Regions from separate parts of the Homo sapiens genome. Here all the other regions are linked to region 3. The links come from fine-mapping of genetic effects on gene expression. A gene starts in region 3. Each other region holds a variant in brackets. All regions are shown on one strand. Distances are from middle to middle.

Region 1 (2,795 bases), 460 kb before region 3:
CTGAAGCGATCCACTCACCTCAGCCTCCCAAACTGTTAGGATTACAGGCATAGCCACAGCACCTGGCATAAATAAACCTTAATAGTGCTCATCTTTGGCTTATGTAATGGAGGCATCAGGGAATGGGAGATGGACTTTTACTTTTCACCCATGGCTTTGAAAATTTTACAACTAATCAAAAAAGGCAAAGGAACATAAAAATCAAGACAAGAAAAGTTTGAATTTGCCTAGATTCACCACTTGATATACAAGTCATAGAATGGTTGCTTATATTCTTATATTGGTTCCAGTTAAACATCCTTTTATCAAAAAAACCATGACAGGTGGATTAAAGAATAAAGGGGGCCAGGCATGGTGGCTCACATCTGTAATCCCAGCACTTTGGGAGGCTGAGGTGGGCAGATCACCTGAGGTCAGAAGTTCAAGACCAGCCTGGCCAACATGGTGAAACCCCATCTCTACTAACAATACAAAACTTAGCCAGGCATGGTGGCATGCGCCAGTAATCCCAGCTACTCGGGAGGCTGAGGCAGGAGAATCGCTGGAACCCGGGTATGCAGAGGCTGCAGCAAGCCGAGTTGCACCATTGCACTCCAGCATGGGCAACAGAGCAAGACTCCATCTCAAAAAAAAAAAAAAAAAAAAAAAAAAAAGAACAAAGGGGAGAAAACTCCCTCTGCCTCTGGTGTGTCATGTGGCCAAGCCAGAATCCCTTACCTTGGTTGCGGCCATATTCCACCAGCCAGCGGGAGATGCGAATGACATCCTGGAGCACGCTCTCGGGCAGGTGCTCCAGGGTCACGTCCTCCTGGGCCTCCAGATCATCGTCACCACTGATCAGATCCAAGATGAGCACGGGCGAGACGACCTTACTGTGCCGCGTCATCAGGCTGCGAAATTCGGACTCCAGGGCCTCCTTCCCGCGCTCAAAGAGCAGTTTCTGCACAGACAACAGAAGGAAGCAGGTGCCTGCTGCTTCAGTGTTCTGCCAGTCCTGGCCTTCCCCTGCCTGTGCCAGCTCTGTCTTCTTAACTCAGGGCCTCTGCCCTTTTCTGCCCTGATATCTTTTTTTTTTTTGAGAGGGAGTCTCGCTCTGTCACCAGGCTGGAGTGCAGTGACACAATCTTGGCTCACTGCAACCTCCGACTTCCTGGTTCAAGCAATTCTCCTGCCTCAGCCTCCTGAGCAGCTGGGATTACAGGCACGTGCCACCATGCCCAGATAATTTTTGTATTTTTAGTAGAGACGGGGTTTCACCATGTTGGCAGGATGGTCTTGATCTCCTGACCTCAGGTGATCCACCCGCCTCAGCCTCCCAAAGTGCTGGGATTACAGGCATGAGCCACTGCACCTGGCCTGCCCTGATATCCTTTAACCCAAAGAAGAAACGCTGGGAAGCGGCCTTGGTGACTCCTT[T/C]ACTTCATGTTCTCTCAAAATTTGTGTTTACAGGTAAAACCCAGGGTTTTACAAGAAGTAGGTGCTTAATAAATACTGGCTGATTGGCCGTGCACGGTGGCTCACGCCTGTAATCCCAGCACTTTGGGAGGCCGAGGCGGGCAGATCACAAGGTCAGGAGATCGAGACCATCCTGGCTAACAAGGTGAAACTCCATCTCTACTAAAAATACAAAAAAAAAAATTAGCCGGGCGTGGTGGTGGGCACCTGTAGTCCCAGCTACTCGGGAGGCTGAGGCAGGAGAAAGGTGTGAACCCAGGAGGCGGAGCTTGCAGTGAGCCAAGATTGCGTCACTGCACTCCAGCCTGGGTAACAGAGTGAGACTCCGTCTCAAAAAAAAAAAAAAAAAAATACTGGCCGATTATTTTCTCACTGAACCGTTAATTTGTCTTCTTGTTAGTGGGGGGTTTGCAAAAGAAAATAAATAAATAAATTGAACAATATCAAGTTGAAAACTTTTGTGCTGCAAATGATACCACCAACAAAGTGAGGATAACCCACAGAATGAGAGAAAATATTTGTAAACTATGTATCTGATAAAAGACAGGTATCCCAAACATAAAAGAGAATGAATCTGTCCACACGATGACATATATAAGAGGGTTTATAGCAGCATTATTCACAAGAGACAAAAATTGGAAACAACCCAAGTGTCCATCAAAGGATAAATGGCTAAAGAAAATGTGGTCTGGCTGGGCACGGTGGCTTACGCCTGTAATCCCAGCACTTTGGGAGGCCGAGGCAAGCAGATCACCTGAGGTCAGGAGTTCAAGACCAGCCTGGCCAACATGGTGAAACCCCGTTTCTACTAAAAATACAAAAAATTAGCTCGGTGTGGTGGCAGGCACCTATAATCCCAGCTACTCGGGAGGCTGGGACAGGAGAATCGCTTGAACCCAGGAGGTGGAGGTTGCAGTGAGCCAAGATTGCGCCATTGTACTCCAGCCCGGGCAACAAGAGCATAACTCCGTCTCAAAAAACAAAACAAAACAAAAAACCAAAAAAAGAAACTGTGGTCTATCCACAAAAAGGAATATCATATGGCATGAAAATGAAATGAAGTACTGATACATGCTATAGCATGGATTGATCTTGAAAGCATCACGCTAAGTGAAAGAGGCCAGTCACAAAAGGCCATGTATTATAAGATACCATTTATATTAGAAATTCAGAATAGGCAAATCCATAAAGACAGAAAATAGATTTGTGATTTCCAGAGGCCAAGTCACCATCTTGCTCTGATGATCTAATGACCCCAAAACTTAAACACAAAAATATGATGAAGGCAGGTACAGTGGGTAATGCCCGTAATCCCTCCCAACACTTTGAGAGGCCAAGGT
Region 2 (2,795 bases), 63 kb before region 3:
CGGCTGAATCACAGGATGCTAGGGTGAGGGCTGGGGACAAGGAAACTGCTTCTCTCCCCAGCTCCCTTGCCACAGAAACTGAAACTCATTTTCCCTGCCTGTGGCCCTGCTGGGAACCAGGGCATTTTTAGAAAGCTGCAAAGAGGAAGCTGAGCCTCACCCACTGTGCAATCCCCAGCAAAACCCGTGGTACTGCTGACCCCGGGGTTTCTCCAGCCCCAGAGGCCCGGAAGGACAGCTCATGGCACAGCTGTTCTTACACCTCCCCATGCATCCCCAAGCTGGGCCTCACGTAGCCAGTGACGCTGCCCTGGCAAGAGGTAGAAGGGGCAAGAGTAAAGGGCAGGAAAGTGGCAAGAAGGCTGGCTGGGGGCCTGGGGGCAGAATTTGGGGAGAGTCATGAGAGGCAAAACAGAAGGGCAGGGTTGGCATGAGCTGCGGCGTGAGCTCCACCGGCAGAGTTAGCAGAGGGGAGAGGGGGCTGGGGACTCTGAGGGTGGGACACCCAGCTGTCTGTCTCCAGGAGCCAAACAGGAGCCACTCTCCCTCCCTCTCAGCACCACCTCCCCAGAGGCCGGAGCTGGTGGCAAGTGGGCGCAGACACGATCTCAACCCACTCCGCCGGTACACGCTTCAGCCCACAGCTGCTGATGGAGAGAAACAAAACGGCCTGTGGGTTCACACAGCTCCCCAGACATCCCACGAACAGCGGGTCCTGGCCCAGAGAGCTGTTTCTTTCTCCTCCTCGCCCCTCCAGGGCTTGCCTCGAACTCAGTTCAGAAGATCAAGAACCCCCAGGGGCAGCTTCAGGGGACTGACCATCCCCTGACTTCTCTGGGCTTTTTCCTATCCGGCCCCAGGCTCTGGGCTCCCCTTAACCCGGTTAGAGTGGCTGGGGCGTCATAAGCCAACCACAGACACGGGAAGCGGGTGCTGTGCTCCAGGGAGCCGCCAAGATCAGGGGTGTGAGGTGTGAACCTGTGTGTGTGTGTTGCGGGGGGCTGGGGGGTGACATGTCATGTTCTTAGGGTGGTGCAGCCCCTGACGCCCCCTCTGCACCAACCATCTGGGCTTTCTCAGGACCAGTTGCCAGCAGGGATGGCAGAGATACAAATGCCCCCTCCTCGGCTGGGGTTCCTGGTCCAGGAAGCAGGCTGAGCTGGGGGTGCTGGAGTCCTGCATCCCCGAAGCCCAATGTGCAGCAGCTGCTGGCAAGACACAGGGGTGGGCACCAAAGGAGGTGGCAGTGCAGCCAGGCCTCGAGCTGGACACAGCGCTGGGCCCCACCCACCACAGTGCCCTCCCCTGGAAATTTCTGGATTTCAAAAGCTGCTGGTGGAGGCTGGGCACAGTGGCTCACACCTGTAATCCCAGCACTTT[G/C]GGAGGCTGAGGTGGGCAGATCACCTGAGGTCAGGAGTTCTAGACTAGCCTGGCCAACATGGTGAAACCCCATCTCTACTAAAAATACAAAAATTAGCCAGGCATGGTGGCGGGTGCCTGTAATCCCAGCTACTGAGGAGGCTGAGGCAGAAGAATCGCTTGAACCTGGGAGGCGGAGGTTGAAGTGAGCCGAGATCACGCCACTGCACTCCAGCCTGGGCGACAGAGCAAGACTCCATCTCAAAAAACACACAGACAAAATAAAACAAAGCTGCTGATGGAGGCAGGCAAGTGGCAGCAGCTGGGCGGGGATGCAGGTGCCTTCCACATCCCAGGGAAGAGGCAGCAGCTCCCGAGCCTGGGGCTGGACTGCAGGCTTTGGGGCAATGAAGGGAAGGGGGCACGCACAGCAGCCGGGCCCCAGTTCTCCTGCTCCCTCAGCATCGTTGTGAAGGGGAGGAGTCAGAAGTGGCCCCTGGGGGCCAAAAGGCCCTGTCCATTTGGGGTCAGACACCAGGACACTGGAGGGTTTCCGGGGTGGGGTGTGCACCACACAGTGCCACAGCAACACAGGCTCGGTGGGAACTGCCCTTTGCTGCAAACGTTCATGAAAGTCTGCCTCTCTGCATCCCGGCAGCCGGGTTTTCACGGGTCCTTGGAAGCAGTGGTGGTCCAGCACAAGCCCAGCGGTTGGGGCAGGATGAGATGCAGCCTGGGGTCTGTGTGAGAGGTCCGTTTCACTCCTGCTGGAGGCTCCTTGACACTAAGGTGTGACCAGGCCATTTCCGTTTGTGACTGTCCCATGTACACAGACAGGGCACTGTCCTGTGCTTACAAAGTAGGAGCCCACCCGGTTTCCACCTGCCTCCAGACAGTGAAAATCTGTCCCGATGGCAGAAGACAGGGTCACAGGCCCATCTCTAACCACTGTGCGATCTTGGGCAAGCCACTTAACATCTCTGAGCCTCAGTTTGTGTATGCATAAGATGCTAGTATCCTCCCAGGGTCTAAGATCTATGTGACTTTGTCACCATGAACGAGGGCTCACCCCAGGAACAGCTCAGCTGAGGTACAAGGTCTCACCTATTGTACAGAGAGGTAAGCACCTTGCCCAGTGCCACCCAGCCAGAAATAGGCCTGGACTGGCTGGGTGTGAGCATGCAGAGCCCAGGGAGCCGACGGCATCCCTGGGCCCTCACCTCGACACACTCAGAGCGCTTCTGGAGGCCCAGTTCTGCCTCCGGCTGCATGGAGCCCCTCAGCAGGGAGGGAAAATGCCAGGCAGACACTTCTGAGCTTGTAAACGGTCATTAAGGAACTAATAAACCTGATTTCCCAGAACGTTGCCCTGGGGCTCCCTGCTTCCCAGGGAAGAGGCTGGCCCTAGCCCCAGTGACTGCCAGGGTTTCAGGACA
Region 3 (2,664 bases):
CAATCAAATGAAAGGAGGTAAACATAAGCAAATGTGGTAATTTGAAGATAAGTATCTGCAACATATTACCATCTGCAGGACAATATAACCCACACCGAAGGCCACAGAGATCACTGTTAATGGGTGGATGAGAACAGGGAGACTGGAATGGAGAAAAGGCTCTCGGTCTTGCAAACTTAAACTAGCTTTCAAATAGGTGCAAATTCTGGCCCTGATTGTTGATGTCGTTTTTGCCTTATTTTTATTTCAAAAACGAAGCCAGACCGGGCGCAGTGGCTCACCTTTGTAATCCCAGCACTTTGGGAGGCCAAAACAGGAGGACTGCTTGAGGCCAGGAGTTTGAGACCAACCCGGGCAACATAGTGAGACCTCATCTCTGCAAAATAAAAATAATCAGCTGGGCGTGGTGGCGCTCGCCTGTCGTCCCGGCCACTCAGGAGGCTGAGGCGGGAGGATCACTTGAGCCCGGGAGGTCCAGGCTACAATAAGTTATGATTGCACCACTGCACTCCAGCCTGCGTGCCAGGGTGAAACCTTATCTCAAAAACAAACCAAAAAAACCCAGAAACAAAAAAAAATGAAGCCAAGGTGTTTGCCTGAAAAATAACACTCAGAAGAGCAGTGGGTGTTACATCATTCTCCGTTCTTTTCGTAATTCAGCTCGTGACACTTGCCTTTTTTTCTCTTCTCGGAATGCCCCGGGCCCCTGGGCAGCCGCGGAGGCCGAGCCCCGTCGCTCTCCAGCGCTCCTTGCCGCCCGCGCCTCGGCTTCACCGGCCTCGCCCCAAACTTAAAAACACCTGAGCAGGAGGTTGAACGATTCCCTCGGAATCTCTCCTCTTCACTAACCCAGCGAACCACCCCAAATGCCCCTATCCTCCCCCAAATAAAATCCGCAGAGCAATTAACAAAGATACTCGGCCAAGCCCCGGTTTCCTCATCTGTCCCTGCCCCCTCGAACTTTCTGTGCTTCCCCAGTCTCGACCAGGGACAAACTGTGTTGAAGCTCAATGACTTTCTGGCAGAAGTGAACCTCCAGCTTCGTTTTCTGACAGCCGTGGTTCTTCACAGGCCTGGTTTCCCACTCCGGACCCTCCACTGCCCCTGGTGGCGGCCACCATCTTACCCCCAGCTCCAGGGTCGCGCTGAGGACGCGGCCAGCCCCCAGCCGCCGTAGTTTTGAACTACATTTCCCACCAGCCCTTTCTCAACATCGCGAGAGTTCCGGAGAGATTGCCGAGAAGACTTGCGCGCAGGGGCGGTCTCGCGTTCTTTTCGAGGTCGGCCGCGTGGCTGGAAGACATGGCCACTCCAGTCGGTGTTGAGCACGGCGAGCAGTCTCAGGCCTTTAGTGATGATGGTAAGGCTGCCTGGGTGGGAAAACGGGGTCTTCCTTGACACGACACTAACATACTTGGCTTCCCTTCCTCAGAGACGAAGTGGTGACGATAATCTCGGTTTCTCCCTCATAGGGTGGTTAGGAGGGTTAAAAGTACTGGATGAGAAAATGCTTTCCAAACGTTGAGAAAATGTTACTATGTGAAGGGAGAGAGCTCAAGCCCGTCCTCGGCGTCATAGGGCCGGCTTCTGCGGGGGAGAGCGCCTAACAACCTGGGCAGCCCCGTGCGCCTCCGCCGCGCGTGTGCTGAGCGTCATGCCCAGGGGTCTTCGGTGCCCGCGCACGGGCAGACTCTGACGATGGTGGTTCTTAATTCAGCATCAGGAGTGTTAACGTGTGAAGACGTGATTCCGCTTGGAGTGTCTTGAGGACGGCCCCAATCGGTAGTTCATATTTAGCTTTACAGATAGGAGTCAATAGGATTGTAAACTTCTGGAAAGCCGTAGTTTTAACAACGAGCCTTTTTTCCTCCCCCAGAGGCCTTTCTTTGTTTGGCATCTGCAGAGACGGTGAAAAGCAGAGCTCCAGGTTGAAGGATCAGAGTAATAGATGGAGCCCTTAACATGAGTAAGAGTGGGTGCAGGCAGGGCCTGAGTGGTCACTAGAAATGAGAAAGCACAGTTGGTGCCATCACATACATTCACCTCCTGCTTTATTCTGAAGTTCAAGTATGAGAATACGTGTTGACATACAAGCCAGCTATGGTAAGAAATTACTCAAAATTCAGAATGCTAATTATTTTAATGATAAAAATGAGTAGCGTCTTTGCCCGTGTGATTTGGGGCCACTAGGTGTCATTGTAACCAGCGTGGATCCTCGTTAGGGCATGCAGGGATGAAAGAGACATGGCAAATGAATTTTGGATCGCTAGGATTTAGGAATCTTTGTTATTGGCTGAGCTGAGGATGATTTAAAGTTATCCCTGTCTGAAATGGTATCTTTTGTGAGGAGGTCTGACTTGCTGAGGCTCAGCTGTTTAATACAAATCTGGAGAATAAACCTTAAGGTGGTTTCTGTTAGAATGAAGCCTGTTATCCTTCTCTTTTAGATTAAAGGTGGTGGCTGTGGCCTTGAAAACAGTCATGTGAAAACTCATCACCTTAAGGTGTTAAGTGTAAGGATCTTCATGATGAAATTTCTGTAAATGGTGAGATTTTTAGTACTTTCATAGACTTGAATATGCTTATGGTCCTCTTTAAGTATTGGTTTGTTAGTTTTGGGGATGTGTTGGTCTTCCAGGGTTACGATTGCCCAGATAATGGAAG

The links. PIP is the estimated chance that this variant, and not a neighbour inherited with it, causes the effect.
Region 1: its variant is fine-mapped to the expression of SNHG16 in spleen (GTEx, PIP 0.96).
Region 2: its variant is fine-mapped to the expression of SNHG16 in whole blood (INTERVAL, PIP 0.97).

Annotation. Positions count from the first base shown.
Region 1 is chr17:76,097,079-76,099,873 of GRCh38, forward strand. It overlaps EXOC7 (exocyst complex component 7), which reads right to left. Exons shown (of 19, transcript NM_001013839.4): 5 at 718-940. MIR6868 (microRNA 6868) reads right to left here and starts at 998; the gene lies at 941-998. The variant T/C (reference allele first, on the strand shown) is at 1,417.
Region 2 is chr17:76,493,130-76,495,924 of GRCh38, forward strand. All of the region lies in intron 1 of RHBDF2 (rhomboid 5 homolog 2), which reads right to left. Among named protein-coding and RNA genes, the nearest start is that of RHBDF2, 6.9 kb to the right of the region's middle. The variant G/C (reference allele first, on the strand shown) is at 1,381.
Region 3 is chr17:76,556,498-76,559,161 of GRCh38, forward strand. It overlaps SNHG16 (small nucleolar RNA host gene 16), which reads left to right and starts at 1,267. Exons shown (of 3, transcript NR_038111.1): 1 at 1,267-1,360. SNORD1C (small nucleolar RNA, C/D box 1C) reads left to right here and starts at 2,293; the gene lies at 2,293-2,372. RefSeq lists enhancers at 298-397, 887-1,687, 1,088-1,347, 1,688-2,489.